2 separate regions of the Homo sapiens genome follow, and region 2 is linked to region 1. Evidence: fine-mapped expression QTL. Tissue or cell type: whole blood. Region 1 holds a variant in brackets; the other region holds the start of a gene. All regions are shown on one strand. Distances are from middle to middle.

Region 1 (8,106 bases):
GGGCAGTTTGTGTTTAATGGGGACAGAGTTTCAGTTTGGGAAGATGCAAAAGTTCTGGAGATGAGTAGTGGTGATGGTTGCACAACAATGTGAATGTACTTAATGCCACAGAAATATATACTTAAAAATGGCTAAAATGGTAAATTTTATGTTATGTATCTATAGTATTTTACTAAAATCTGAAAAAAGTTATGGCTCATTTACACTGATATTTTCCTATAATTCGTATTAAACATTATATGTTATGAAATACTCAGGTTCAAAAAGTAATTCAAGATGTGCTACTACTTTTATTTTAACAAATATTTTCATTTGGTCATACAAATCTATTCTTTTTTTTTTTTTTTTTTGAGACGGAGTCTCACTCTATGCCCAGGCTGTGCAGTGGCGTGATCTCACTTCACTAGGTTCAAGCGATTCTCCTGCCTCAGCCTTCCGAGTAGCTGGGACTACAGGTGCACGCCACCATGCCTGGCCAATTTTGGTATTTTCAGCAGAGATGGGCTTTCACCATATTGGTCAAGCTGGTCTCAAACTCCTGACCTCAGGTGATTCACCTGCCTCGGCCTCCCAAAGTGCTGGGATTACAGGTGTGAGTCACCATGCCCAACCAAATTTATTCTTAAATCTATTCTTAACTACACATCAGAGTTTAGAATCATTAATGCTTGTTTTTTTTTTTTTTTTTGAGACAGAGTTTCGTCCTGTTGCCCAGGCTGGAGTGCAACGGCGCGATCTTGGCTCACTGCAACCTCTGCCTCTGGGTTCAAGCGATTCTCCTGCCTCAGCCTCCCGAGTAGCTGGAATTTACAGGTGTGTGCCACCGCACCCAGCTACTTTTGAATGAGATCACCTCATTCAGGTGATCTGTCCGCCTTGGCCTCCTAAAGTGCTGGGATTACAGGTGTGAGCCACCGTACCTGGCCAGTAATTTTATTTATTTATTTATTTTTTATTTTAAAATCCAGCTTCTGCATGAAGCAATTTTTATTCACACAGTCGACTGTGAAAAATTAATGAAAGGGCCGGGTGTAGTGGCTCAGTCTTGTAACCCTCTACCTTGGGAGGCTGAGGTGGGTACATCGCTTGAGCTCAGGAGTTCAAAACCAGCCTGGGCAACATGGTGAAACCCTGTTTCTACAAAAAAAAAAAAAAATTAGCTAGGCCTGGTGGCACGTTCCTGTAGTCCCAGCTACTCAGGGAGCAGAGGCGGGAGGATCACTTGAGCCTGGGAGGTTGAGGCTGCAGCGAGCCAAGACCGCACCACTGCCCTCCAGCCTGGGTGACAGAGCAAGACCTTGTCTCAACAACAACAACAACAAAAAAGTTTGTAAAAAGTTTGCTCATCAGTAAAAGGAAAATATTTAAATATTTTGTAAGACATACACTTCAAAGGGAGTTTCAAGGTTTAAGCATGTGTATAAATGTAAAATGAAAATACTACATGGAACAGAGTAAGGGCTTAATAAATGTTAGCTATTATTATATCAGGTATTCTTAAGTCATACTTTTTTTTTTTTTTTTGAGATGAGGTCTCGATCTGTCACTCAGGCTGGAATGCAGTGGTACAATCTCGGCTCACTGCAACCTCCACCTCCCGGGTTCAAGAGATTCTCCTGCCTTAGTCTCCCAAGTAGCTGGGATTACAGGCACCGGCCACCACACCCAGCTAATTTTTGTATTTTTAGTAGAGACGGGATTTTGCCATTTTGGCCAAGTAGGTCTCGAACTCCTGACCTTGTGATTCGCCTGTCTCAGTCTCCCAAAGTGCTGGATTACAGGCGTGAGCCACCACACCCGGCCTTGTCACTCTTTTAAAGACTGTATTTTATCTGAAAGTATTTGGCAGATATCAAATAATGTTTCTGGTTTTCTGAGATATTTTAATGACACTTAAAAGGAAGTAGAAGTTATGAAAAAAAAATCTGGGGGCCGGGCGTGGTGGCTCATGCCTATAATCCCAGCACTTTGGGAGGCCAAGGAGGGCGGATCACATGAGGTCGGGAGTTCGAGACCAGCCTGGCCAACATGGAAAAACCCTGTCTCTACTAAAAATACAAAATTAGCTGGGCATGGTGGCAGACACCTGTAATCTCAGCTATTTGGGAGGCTGAGGCAGGAGAATCACTTGAACCCAGGAGGCAGAGGTTGCAGTGAGCTGAGATCGCACCATTGTACTCCAGCCTGGGCGACAAGAGCAAAACTCCGTCTCAAAAAAAAAAATTTCTACTTCTCAGGCAGCTTTTAGTGATAGACCTCTTATCACCACATCATCACTAGAAATACCAAATAAAAAATATAAAAAAGTAGTATATGGCTCGCTCTTTTTTATTTGAGGTGGAGTCTCCCTCTGTTGCCCAGGCTGGAGTGCAGTGGCGTGATCTCGGCTCACTGCAACCTCCACCTCTCTGCTTCAAGTGATTCTTTTGCCTCAGCCTCCTGACTAGCTAGGACTACAGGCGCATGCCACCACGCCCGGCTAATTTTTGTATTTTTAGTAGAGATGGGGTTTCGCCATGTTGGTCAGGCTGGTCTCCATTTTTTTTTTTTGAGATGGAGTCTCACTCTGTTGCCCAGGCTGGAGTGCAGTGGCGTAATCTCGGCTCACTGCAATCCCTGCCTCTTGGGTTCAAGTGATTCTTTTGCCTCAGCCTCCTGAGTAGCCGGGACTACAGGCACGCACCACCACGCCCAGCTAATTTTTATATTTTTAGTAGAGATGGGGTTTCACCATATTGGCCAGGCTGGTCTCGAACTCCTGACCTCGTGATCCGCCCGCCTTGGCCTCCCAAAGTGCTGGGATTACAGGTGTGAGCCACTGTACCTGGCCCACTCGCTCTTCTTTTACAAAACTTAGATCCCAAAAGATATGAAGAAGTTGCTTTGACCTACAAAATATTTCAGACTTTTAAGAACAGGACTAAAGATCTTTATTCTAATCTCCTTATAATATTTCAGATGTTAATAGGAGAAAGAGAAAATTGTATATAAAACAATCTGAGGAATTAAAGTCAAAAGCCAGCAAACTGAAATAAAAAGGGTAAACATTAAAAATGCCAATTTTCCTCACTTTCTGTTGACTTACAAAGAACATACATGGGCAGGAAGTCTGCCTTGTGACTTCTCCCCTCTGAAATTAGATATTGTGCTTCCTCTTCCTCTCAATCTGCCCTGCTTTAGCCATCAACAAAGCTTTTTAAACAAAAA[C/G]ATTCATGACCTCTGAAGGATGAGGTAAGATAAGGATGTGAAATTGCACTGCTAACAGCTCTCTTGAGAGGGCACCAGGCCAACGCAGGCAGACAGGGCACAGGGAGGCTGCATGTGGGTCCTGCTCCTCCTGGGCAGCTCTGCCCAATGAGGTTCCAAGTCTTAGAATAGGACACAGTCAGAATTGGAGCAAAAATGCACTCTCAAGTCAAAGAGAATAAACTAACAAAAGCCCTTCTGCCGTTGGCACAGACAGAGGCTGAGGACTGACTATGCAGCAGTCTAAACCACAATCTACAAAAGTTGCTTTTGGCCCAGCATGGTGGCTCACACCTGTAATCCCAGCACTTTGAGAGGCCGAGGTGGGTGGATCACCAGGTCAGGAGTTCCAGACCAGCCTGGCCAACATGGTGAAACCTCATTTCTCTAAAAATACAAAAATTAGCCGGGCGTGGTAGCACGTGCCTGTAATCCCAGCTACTCGGGAGGTGGGATCCGTCCACCTTGGCCTCCCAAAGTGCTGGGATTACAGGTGTGAGCCACCATGCCCGGCCAAAGTTGACCTCTATTGAAATGTCTTTTTTGATTTTTTTCTTCTTCCATATTCACAACTTTGTGCTTGGAAGCTGCAGGGCTCCTCTCTGTTACCCACCCCATTTATGCCAGATGACTTTTTTTTTTTTGGAGACAGAGTTTTGCTCTTGTTGCCCAGGTTGGAGTGCAATAGCACGATCTCGGCTCACCACAACCTCTGCCTCCCGGGTTCAAGCTAATTCTCCTGCTTTAGCCTCCTGAGTAGCTGGGATTACAGGAGCACACCATCACACCCAGCTAATCTTTGTATTTTTGTAGAGACAGTGTTTTGCCATGTTGGCCAGGCTGGTCTTGAACTCCTGACCTCAAGTGATCCACCTGCCTCGGCCTCCCAAAGTGCTGGGATTATAGGCATGAACCACTGTGCCTGGCCGAAGTGGGGTACTTTAAATATTCACCCTTTGGTCTGAGGCCTAATGATTTTGGCAAATAGCACTGAAATTCTAGATGAATGAAGTATAAAGTTGTTCTGGTGTGAGTACCATACATTGAATGAAACACAGCAGGAAGAATGAGCCAATCATTCTCTGGTTCCAAATCTATAAAGCTCTGAATACCACATGCCTCATGTCTGGCATGTCTAGAAATAAATACCAATCCAACTTTTCTCTTTAGTTCATGAAATCCCAAGGACAAGTGTGAAAGCATTATCATTATGTCACCATGACTACAGGAAATTCATAGAAACAAAATTGGATTATATGTGTGTGCTTATTTGTATATACATACACATCCACATACATTGACCAAAGCAAACAAAATCTCAAGACCATAGTTCCTAATGACAGAGCCAAGAAGGCCGGGCATGGTGGCTCACGCCTGTAATCCCAGCACTTTGGGAGGCCGTGGTGGGCGGATCACTTGAAGTCAGGAGTTTGAGACCAGCCTGGCTAACATGGTAAAACCCCGTCTCTACTAAAAATACAAAAAAAAAATTAGCAGAGTGTGGTGGCACGCACCTGTGGCCCCAGCTGCGTGGGGAGGCTGAAGTAGGAGATATGCTTGAACCCAGGAGGTGGAGGTTGCAGTGAGCTGAGATCACGCTACTGCACTTCAGCCTGGGCAACAAACAGGGTCTCTTTTTTTGACATACTGTGTCAAAAAAAAAAAAAAAAAAACAGAGCCAACGAAAGGGAGAGAAGATGCTATGATGCAGTCATCATCAAGCTTGTTTGATGCAAAGAAATAAGTATATGCAACCAAAGCAGGGTTTCTTAACTTTGGCATTACTGACATTTTGAGTCGGATAATACTTTTTTTTCCTTTGAGACAGGGTCTCAGCTCTGTTGCTCAGGCTGGAGTGCAGTGACGTGACCATGGCACACTGCAGCCTCGACTTCTTGGGGTTAAGCCATCCTCCCACCTCAGCCTACCAAGTAGCTGGGACTACGGGTGCATGCCACTATGCCCAACTAATTAAAAAATTTTCTTGGCCAGGCGCAGTGGCTCACGTTTGTAATCCCAGCACTTTGGGAGACTTGAGGCAGGTGGATCACGAGGTCAGGAGTTCGAGACCAGCCTGGCCAACGTGGTGAAACCCCGTCTCTACTAAAAATACAAAAATTAGCTGGGCTTGGTGGTGCACGCCTGTAATCCCAGCTACTCAGGAGGTTGAGGCAGGAGAATCACCTGAATGCGGGAGGTGGAGGTTGCAGTGAACCGAGGTGGCACCACTGCACTCCAGCCTGGGCAACAGAGTGACACTCTGTCTCAAAAAAAAAAAATTTGTTTTCTTGTAGAGACAGGGTCTCACTCTGTTGCCCAGGCTGGTCTCCAACTCCTAGTCTCAAGTGATCCTCCTGTCTCAGCCTCCCAAAGTGCTGGGATTACAGGCCTGAGCCACCATGCCTGGCCTTGGATAATTCTTTGTTGTTGGCTGTCCTGTGCACTGTGGAATATTTAGCAGCATGATCACTCCTCTGCGTAGTGGTAAATGTCCCTAGACATTGCCAAATGTTCCCTGGGGACGTGAGGTGGGGTGGTGGGAAAATTGCCTTAGGTTGAGAACTACTAAACTAAAGCAACATGTTTTCATGGCTTTGACCACCAGCTATGTCCTGAAGACAGACAAAACTATAGCCCAGCCAGAGGACTCTCCTGAACTCCCAACCACAGACCCAACATCCTGCTCAACTTTTCCACTTGATAGTGCCCAGGCACCTGAAACTCAGAGAGCTCATCTCCCAGACCTCTAATCCTGGTAGATGCCACCAGCTGCACAAGCTGCAAATTCATCTACCTTTTCCTTTAACTCCCAACTCTACAGTTAATCCAATGTCCTACTAATTAAAACCTTTAAACAGTTCTCATGTCTATATCTTCTTTGTTATTCCCGTGATAATGCCTTAGTTCGTTATTTTTTCTTTTTCATTGATGTTTCTCAGTCATATTGCCTTAGTTCTAACATGCTTAATTTCATAACTTTTACTTTACTGGCTTCCAAGCTATTTTCCATACTGTGCATCAATAGAATCTTTCTACCCTACAAAGATGATCATTCTTCTGTTCTCATCTGCCCTGTTCTCCCTCCTCGGGGTGATTTTTAGGAACATTGCTAAAGGCAGTTTTAAGTAACGATGGCCCAGTGAGGCAGGATCACAGAATCTTCCTTTGTCAGCATCAAAAGAATACTAAAAAAAGTTAAACAATTTACCAGTAGCAACCAAAGAAAGGGGTAAACCTTCATGCTGCAAATGTTGAAAAGTGGGTGCGAAGAGAAAATTTGAAAGTGGCTGATAATTAGGCGTCCATTCCTGGGAAGGAGTATTGAAGAAAGAAGGTAAGTTAACAAAATCTTGTGATGTCTATTAATATTCCAAGCTGGAGACAAGCAGCCTGAGGAGAAGATAGCTCTAGAAAAAGTTAGACACACACAATCAAGGGATTTCAGCAGATTCAGGAAGAACTGCCAAGGTATGCCACTTTCCAGGGAGCTGGACAGAACTGGGTACAATCCCATGGGAGTGGGACAGCTCCCATGGGGGGAGGTATCTCCAACTGGATGGAGAGAGCGGGTCCAGGTACAAGTGATTTCATCCCCAGAAGGATTAACACCACCAGCTTAGCTCCCTCTCCCATCCCAAGGCTATAGAAATGTAGAAACAAAGCACTTCTACAGACCTCAAAATGTGATGTGTGAAGGGCAGAAAAACTAGTTCCAGGTAGTGAGAAGTGGGATGACAGAAGTCATTCAATTTTTTTTTTTGAGAGAGGGTCTTGGTCTGTTACCCAGGCTTGAGTGCAGTAGCACGATCTTGGCTGACTGCAACCTCCACTTCTTGGGCTCAAGGGATTCTCCAGCCTCAGCCAGGCATGAGCCATTGAAGTCCAGCTAATTTTTGTATTTTTTGTAGAGATGGGGTTTCCCCATGTTTCCCAGGCTGATCTTGAACTCCTGAGGTCAAAGCAATCCACCTGCCTTGGCTTCCCAAAGTGCTGGGATGACAGGTGTGAGCCAACGTGTTTGGCCCACTTATTTATTTATTTTTAAATATAGGGTCTTGCGGGGTCTGGTGCGGTGGCTCACGCCTGTAATCCCAGCACTTTGGGAGGCCGAGGCGGGTGGATCACGAGGTCAGGAGATCGAGACCATCCTGGCTAACACGGTAAAACCCCGTCTCTACTAAAAAACACAAAAAATTAGCCGGACGTGGTGGCGAGCACCTGTAGTCCCAGCTACTCGGGAGGCTGAGGCAGGAGAATGGCGTGAACCTGGGAGGCAGAGCTTGCAGTGAGCCAAGATCATGCCACTGCACTCCAGCCTGGGTGACAGAGCAAGACTCTGCCTCAAAAAAAAGGATAGGGTCTTGCTCTGTTGCCCAGGCTGGAGTACAGTGGTGTGATCACAGCTCCCTGCAGCCTTGACCTCCTGGGCTCAAGCAATCCTTCCACCTAAGCCTTCTGAGTACATGGTCCCACAGGTGGGTGCCACCATATCTGGCTAATTTTTTCTATCTTTTGTAGAGACAGAGTCTCAGTATATTGCCCAGGCTGGTACCAAACTCCTGGGTTCACCTCGCCCTCCCAAAGTGCCAGTTTCTCCAAAAGTTTCTACTCCATTTCAAATATGATCTGATGTAAATTATTTTAAAGTAATAATCGAAGATCAGTTCACCTTCCCTTTGGGAGATATAGGCTGGGCAAACACAGCTACAGAAAAGAAAGTAATCAGTCAACGAAAATTACTACCTCTTATAACTGTCTCTATTTAAAACAAGAGAAACATATACAAAAATATACCATTTCCTTTACTCACTTTTGTGATAGTTTTTAAGATGGCAAGGCGATCTGCAGGGGGCGGTAAAC
Region 2 (8,106 bases), 64 kb before region 1:
ACTACTCTAGTCAGTAATTAGTTGTCAATATATATTTTTCTTACTTAAAATGTATTATTTAAATATAAAATTAGCACATGTAAATTTATAGTTAAAACATTCATGAATTTGGGCCAGGCGCTGTAGCTCATGCCTGTAATCCCAGCACTTTGGGAGGCTGAGGCAGGTGGATCACCTGAGGTCAGGAGTTTCGAGACCAGCCTGACCAATATGGTGAAACTAAAGTACAAAAATTAGCCAGGCGTGGTGACATGAATCTGTAATCCCAGCTACTCGGGAGGCTGAGGCAGGAGAATCACCAGAACTCAGGAGGCGGAGATTGCAGTGAGCCAAGATTGGGCCATTGTACTCCAGCCTGGGCGACAGAGCGAAACTCCATCTCAAAAATAAAATAAAAAGAAAAGAAAAGAAATAGATAACATAAAATTCTTACGATTATTTGCTTGAAGTGAATAAAGAATGTTTTCTGTATTACTCTTCTATGAATTACAGTAGTCAATACCATTCAATCTCAACTGTTATCACTATTGAAATGGCCTCAAAAATAAACTGCCCTTTCAAAAATCAAGCAGATGGAAAAGGAAAAATCCATATTGATTTCAAAAGTACAGCTGCCCTCATCTGAAAACTACTTCATCTTAAATTTCCTAATATGATCATGGCTGGCTGCGATTCACCACAGCTTCCAACAGCCGACTGGAGAGCGTTTTTCCAGAATAACTAGTATGTTTGCTTCAAGACAAATTATTTGACAAGGTTAAGGAAAAGATGTGAAAGCTAGATAATCCATTAAGAATCTTTTTTTAAAACTTCAAGGCATTTTATTTATACTTCTTTTTTTTTTTTTTGAGACAGTCTCGCTCTGTCGCCCAGGCTAGTGTGCAGTGGTGCAATCTCAGCTCACTGCAACCTCCGCCTCCCGGGTTCAAGCTGTTTTCTGCCTCAGCTTCCCAAGTAGCTGGGATTACAAGCACCCACCGCCATGCCCAGCTAATTTTTGTATTTTTAGTAGAGACGGGGTTTCACCATCTTGGCCAGGCTGGTCGTGAACTCCTGACCTTGTGATCCACCCACCTCGGCCTCCCAAAGTGCTGGAATTACAGGCGTGAGCCACCATGCCTGGCTATACTTCTTAGCTTACTTTTTTATTACGCGTATATATTAAGAACTTTTAAAAGTCCAAATTAAAGAAGCATGCCTAGACATCATTAAAATAGCTATCAATGCCCATGACAATCCTGTAGCTCAAATAGTTTACTTTAGAATGTCAAAATTGATTTTGTAATAGTCAGGACAGGATAAACAGTCGCTATATTAAGACCATGTACGTGTCCCTAGACCTAGTTCTTTCCCTACGTCTGTTTTTATAAATGCTGGTGATAAACCAGGTCTGATTAATATATAATCATTTTGTGTGATTATGTAACGGCTATAATTCTAGGTTATCTTTGGTCAACCTTAAGAAAAATGGCAGTATATGTAATGACTTTTGCAAATGATCAGTGCTAATTTGCAGACTTTTGTTTAAAGAGGGTTTAAACAAAATAAGAAAATTTCATGATTACCAGTTGCTATTAAATGAATTGTAACTTTTTTTAAAAAAAAAGAATGTCCAAGCCAGGTGTGGTGCTCATGCCTGTAATCCCAGCACTTTGGGAAGCCAAGAAGGGCAGATCACTTAAGGTCAGGAGTTCAAGACCAGCCTGGCCAACATGGTGAAACCCCGTCTCTAGTAAAAATACAAAAAGTTGCTGGACGTGGTGGCACACACCTGTAATCCCAGCTACTCGGGAGGGTGAGGCAGGAGAATCGCTTGAACCCAGGAGGCAGAGGTTGCAGTGAGCCAAGATCTTGACACTGCACTCCAGCCTGGGCAACAGAGCGCAACTCCATCTCAGAAAAAAAAAATGGTATATCCAGATTCACATTTTTTTTCAAACTCTGCATTTTTCTTTCTTTCTTTTATTTTTTAATGTTTTTGAGACAAAGCCTCACTCTGTCACACAGGCTAGAGTGCAGTGCCACAATCTCAGCTCATTTCTCAGCTCATTGAAGCCTCGACCTCCTGGGCTCAAGCAATCTTCCCACCTCAGCCTCAGCAATAGGTGGGACCACAAACATGGGCCACCACGCCCAGTTAAATTTTTTTTTTTTTTTTTTGAGACGGAGTCTTGCTCTGTCGCCCAGTCTGGAGTGCAGTGGTGCGATCTCGGCTCACTGCAAGCTCCGCCTCCCGGTTTCATGCCATTCTCCTTCCTCAGCCCCCCAAGTAGCTGGGGCTACAGGCGCCCCCCCCACCATGCCTGGCTAATTTTTTTTGTATTTTTAGTAGAGATGGGGTTTCACCGTGTTAGCCAGGATGGTCTGGATCTCCTGACCTTGGAGACCGCCTTGGCCTCCCAAAGTGCTGGGATTACAGGCATGAGCCACCATACCCGGCATAATTTTTGTATTTTTTATAGAGGTGGGTTTTTGCCATGTTGCCCAGGCTTGTCCCGAACCCCTGCCCTCAAGCGATCCCCCTACCTCGGCCTCCCAAAGTGCTCAGACTACAGACGTAAGCCTCCGCACACCTTTTGGACTGGTGTGCCAGTTCACACATGCCTGTGATAGCAACTGCGTTCTGAACTGCAGGGATACATTTACTTGTCAGCACCTGAAAACTTCCTCCTGAGTTGAGTCCAATTATCAGCTTCATGTGCCATCTGCCAATCCAGATGAAACTTGGCAAATACAAAGCTGTCCTTTTCCAGGTGACACTCCCCACCTTCTTTTTCCTCCACCATTTCATTAACAACTAAAAAGCTCCTGCATGATCAGACCTGTGTATCTATCCATCATCAAATCCCACTCCTTTTTCGAGACTGGGACCCTCTGGAGGCTGACCCAGCCACGCATTTGCTAGCATGCCCTGCAGACATGACCCTCGCTGGGCTCTGATCAGCCTTCAGGCCTCCACTCCAGGTGTCACTGTTCTGTCTCCCCTCTGCTCTCACAGCCTTCTCTGCTAGATGTCTCAGCCGTGCTGGCCCTCTCTATTTCAGAAGTGAATGTACTGAGAGGGTCTTAGGGACTTATTAATAATGCTCCTGGGGTCGGATGTAGTAGCTCATGCCTGTGATCCCAATACTTTGAGATCACTTGAGCCCAAGCGTTTGAGACCAGCCTGGGCAACAAGGTGAGGCCCCATCTCTATCAAAAATTCAAAAAAGTAGCCAAGCATGGTGGTGCACGCCTGTGATCCCAGCTCCTCGGGAGACTGGGGTGGGAGGATGGCTTAAGCTCAGGTCAAGACTGAAGTGAGACATGAGGCCACCACTGCACTCCAGCCTGGGCAACAGAGCAGGACTCTGTCTCAAAAAAAACAAAACCCACTATAACCATAATACTATTATCACACTTAAGAAATTCATAATTCCTTAATATCATCACATATCCAATTGATATCTGAGTTCAATTATTTCATGTCAATGTTTTTAAACTATTTCAATCAGAATCTAAATGAGGTCAACACGTTGCAATTGGTTGGTATGTCTTTTAAACTCCTTTTAATCTACAGGTTTCTCTTTTTTTGCCTTGAGTTTCATTTATTAGAGAACCCAGACATTGTCCCATATAGTCTCCCAGAGTTGGATCTTGCTAGTTTCATCCCCACGGCCTAGTTTAACACATTCCTCTGTCCTTTCTATTTTCTTTTTTTTTTCTTGAGAGGGAGTCTCCGTCTGTCCCCCAGGCTGGAGTGCAGTGGCTCCGTCTCAGCTCACTGCAACCTCTGCCTCCCAGTTCGAGCGATTCCCCTGCCTCAGCCTCCTGAGTAGCTGGGATTACAGGCGCCTGCCACTACGCCCAGCTAATTTTTTTATATTTTTAGTAGAGACGGGGGTTTCACCATCCTGATCAGGCTGGTCTCGAACTCCCGACCTCAGGTGATGGACCCGCCTCTGCCTCACAGAGTGCAAGGATTACAGACGTGAGCCACCGCACCCGGCCAAATGTCCTTTCTATTTTCTATAAATTAACAGTCAGATCTAGGGGCTCGATCAGATTTGTGTGTGTGTGTGTGCCGTGTGCGCGTGCACAGCATGTTCTTTGACTAGGAGGCACACCTGCTTTGGTTATCTTCTTTTTGTAATCTTTAAGTTGCTCTTTGATGTAGACGTGGTAACTAATGTTGAAACAAAATTAGTTTCGTTTCAAAACCTTTCTTTCAGGAAGAGGTTGTGGTTGATTACTTCTGCGACAGGTAGATGCAAGGTTGAGCAATCATCTCTTAACAGAAGTGGTCACACTAGAATAATTCAAGCACAACAACAAATCCCACATCATCACCCCCTCTTAATAATGGTGTTTTCTTTTTACTTGATTAGCTTTTAATTGTCACGCACTCTGCATTTTTTCCCTGAGGTATTATTTCCAGAAGGCAGCGAAATATGACTCAATGGCTAATTTGCTTTTTAAAAATTAAACAAAACTTAGGCCAGCTGCCATTTAAGAAGGGCTCCGGGGCCTCCAGACTCGGTGTGACCGTAGCCGTGCCCGGTGCTCCCCTCGCGGAGGCGTTAGGGCGGCAGGTTTATCTCACTTGAGACCATTCCTTCCTTTTTCATCTTCTCCGGGCTCCGGCGCAGCAGGCCGCAGGGGCGGGCACTCGCAAGAACGCGGCATCCTGGATGGTGGCCGAGTCACCGAAGCTCAGAACCCCGCGTCCCAGAATCGCTGAGAGCCGGCCCCGCACGGGGGCCTGGGAGCGCCACGCGCCCTCCACCCAGAGAGGCAGGCGGGCGGGCCGGGGGGGGCGGGGCCTCGGGACTCCGCCCACGCCTCCGTCTCCTCCGCGCTCCGCCACAGCCGGCCGACACCACACCAGCCGGGGAGCCGCCGCCGCCGCCGCCACCTCTGAGCAGCCGGCTGGGAGCGAGAGCCGACAGCTAGTCTGCAAGCCACCGCTGTCGCCATGGGGAGCCGCGTCTCGCGGGAAGACTTCGAGTGGGTCTACACCGACCAGCCGCACGCCGACCGGCGCCGGGAGATCCTGGGTGAGGGCCAGCGGGCGCCCCGTTATGTGCGTGCGTGGCCTCCCGGCGCCGGGGCGCGCTCTCCCCTCGCGGGCCCTGCGCGGTCGTGGGCGCCGGAGGCCCGTTAGCAGCCTGCTCCCCGTCGCGTCCCGTCGCCGCTCGGGCCGCCAGCCCGCGGGTCAGCGCGGGAGAGGCTGGGCGAGGAGCGGGGGGAGGGACGGGTCCTCGGAGCCGCGCAGCTCCGACCCTTCCGCGAAGAGGCGCAGGCGCGTCCCCGAGCGCGGGAGTCCCCGCCAGGCCCACGCCGGCCGGTTGGGGCGAAGGGTGTCCCCGGCTGTGCCAGCCTTGAGTAGATCTTTTCGCTAGAAGATTCCTGTGCCCTCAGGTGGGCGCCCTTTCCTCTCACCACTCCCTCTCCTCCGGAGCGGGCCGAGGTGAGCGGGTGCCGGCCTTGGGGCTGCCTGAGTGCTAGGCAGGGTGTGGTCCTGGGCATCCTTGGGCCTACCAGCGAGCCCTGCTCAGGGTGTCGGGCGCCGGCGGGCAGTACTGGCGGGGGCGGCCGCAGTCCCGGCCTTGGGCCCGTTAAGGGGGCCGGCGTCCCTCCATATGCCCCCCGGGGCTTCTCGGACTTGATGGGCCCTGGTCGGTTCACGCCGCTTGTCCCATTGATCCTCACGACAAGCCTGGGACGTAAGAACGGCGGATTCGTAGGCATTTTTCATCCATCTCGGTTTTGTGGATGAAAAGACTGAAAATGGAAGACTTGCCAAATAAGGAAAATATGTGGCGTGGCCTGCTGGTCCCCTGACAGCTAATTGAGAGGCCTTAACTCTCCAGAGGATTCGGGCCTTCTGTGTTACATAGAGAATGCTCATCTCTCCCAGGCTACTCCTAATATGCTAGGGATTGTGTGGAATGCTTTACAAACATTACCCAATTTCATCCTCTTGGTAATTCTACTTGGTTGGTATTATCGCTGTTTTAAAAAATGAAATAAGAACGCGTGACTAAATGCTAGGGGGATTCTAATGCGCATTCGGTTGCCTCTTCCAGAGCACGTGTTTGTTTTTTGTTTGTTTGTTTTTTGAGACTGCACGTGTTTGTTTTTTGTTTGTTTGTTTGTTTGTTTTTTGAGACTGAGTCTCACTCTGTTGCTCATGCTGGAGTGCAGTGGCGCGATCTCCACTCGCTGCAACCTCTGCCTCCTGGGTTCAAGCGATTCTTCTGTCTCAGCCTCCCGAGTAGCTGGGATTACAGGTTCCCACCACTACGCCTGGCTAATGTTTGTATCTTTTTTAGTTAGAGACGGGGTTTCACCATGTTGGCCAGGCTTATCTCGAACTCCTGACCTCAGGTGATCCGCCCGCCTTGGCCTCCCGAAGTTTTGGGATTACAGGCGTGAACCACCGTGCCCGGCCAGAGCACGAGCTTTTTAACCTCTGTTGAGGAAACGGGGACCGGTCACGGTAGCTCAGGCCTGTAATCCTAGCACTTCGGGAGGCTGAGGCGGGAGGATCGCTTCAGCCCAGAAGTTTGAGACCATCCTGAGTAACATAGTGAGAGCCCCCCGTTTACACACACACACACACACACACACACACACACACACTTTTTTTAAATTGAGGAAACGGTGAGTTGAACATGAGCAATTATTCCTTATATATAGTATTTCCTTAGTTTTTCTTCTCAACATTCATTTGCCCAGTGAAAAGAAAAAGCAAGTAGCTGGGACCACAAGCGCACACCACCATGCCTGGTTGATTTTTCTATTTTTTGTAGAGATGGGTTTCTCCGTGTTGCCCAGGCTGGTCTTGAACTCCTGGGCTCAAGCAATCTGTCCGCTTTGGCCTCCCAAAGTGCTGGGATTTTAAAGGCGTAAGCCACTGCACCCGGTAACTTTGGGTTCTTGAATTCCCTTCCTCCTCTTCTTCCTCCTCCCCTACACTCCATTAGAGAAAGGGTCTTGCTTTGTTGCCCAAGCTGGAGTGCGGTGGTTGTTCACAGGCATGATGATCACTGCAGCCTGGGCTCCAGTGGTCCGCATACCTCAGCCTGCCAGTAGCAATTTGTTTGGCACATCACTTACACATACTTGATATGAGATAGCATGATACTTTTTTGAGACGGAGCCGCACTCTGTCACCCAGGCTGGAGTGCAGTGGCCCAGTCTCGGCTCACTGCAACCTCTCCCTCCTGGGTTCAAGCAGTTCTGCCTGCCCCAGTCTCCCGAGTACCTGGGATTACAGACGCCCGCCACCATACCTGGCTAAGTTTTTCTATTTTTATTTTTAGTAGAGACAGGGTTTTGCCACATTGGCCAGGCTGGTCTCAGATGATGCGCCTGCCATGGCCTCCCAAAGTCCTGGGATTACAGGCGTGAGCCACCCTGCCAGGCCACATATGATATATTTTATCAATGCCTTATCTACATGTTACATAGGAATAATCTAGCGTCCTACCTGTGTAAAAACCAACTCTGGAATACTGAAACTGAGCTACTTAATATTCTGAAAATCAGGACGGGTGTGGTGGCTTTTTTTTGCCTGTAATCCGAGCACTTTGAGAAGCTGAGGCAAGAAGATCGCTTGAGGCCAGTTCAGAACAGCCCCATCTGCACGAGAAATTAAAAAATTAGCTAGGCGTGCATGCCTGTCCCGCTACTCAGAAGGCTGAGGCGAGAGGAACACTTGAACTCAGGAGTTCGAGGCCAACCTGGGCAACATGGCAAAACCCCATCTCTACCAAAAAAAAAAAAATTTAATTAGCGGGACATGGTGGCATGTGCCTGTGGTCCCAGCTACACAGAAGGCTGAGGTGGGAGGATTGCTTGAGCTGGGGAGGTAGAGGCTGCAGTGAGCCGTGATTGCCCCACCGCGTTCCAGCCTGGGCAACAGAGTGAGACTGTCTCAAGAAAAAGAGATGAAGGAAGTGAGAAGGTGCTGATTGATACTTACCTCACACTGAGCCTTTTTTCCCCCCACAGACTTATCACTGAACCATTTCACTGGGAAAGTAAAAGGACCACATATTTCTTGGCCGGGCATGGTGGCTCACGCCTGTAATCCCAGCACTTTAGGAGGCTAAGGTGGGC

What was found. PIP is the estimated chance that this variant, and not a neighbour inherited with it, causes the effect.
Region 2: DEGS1 starts here. The variant in region 1 is fine-mapped to the expression of DEGS1 in whole blood (TOPMed, PIP 0.95).

The regions. Positions count from the first base shown.
Region 1 is chr1:224,242,156-224,250,261 of GRCh38, forward strand. It overlaps NVL (nuclear VCP like), which reads right to left. Exons shown (of 23, transcript NM_002533.4): 19 at 8,057-8,106. Among named protein-coding and RNA genes, the nearest start is that of MIR320B2, 11 kb to the right of the region's middle. RefSeq lists an enhancer at 3,499-3,548. The variant C/G (reference allele first, on the strand shown) is at 3,208.
Region 2 is chr1:224,178,383-224,186,488 of GRCh38, forward strand. DEGS1 (delta 4-desaturase, sphingolipid 1) reads left to right here and starts at 4,858. Exons shown (of 3, transcript NM_003676.4): 1 at 4,858-5,036. The coding sequence starts at 4,955. It overlaps LOC124900425 (small nucleolar RNA SNORA72), which reads left to right and starts at 1,259; the gene lies at 1,259-1,385. RefSeq lists enhancers at 4,034-4,183, 4,037-4,867, 4,444-4,533, 4,868-5,697, 7,171-7,230 and 1 more and silencers at 4,684-4,883, 4,984-5,363, 5,524-5,603, 6,905-7,199.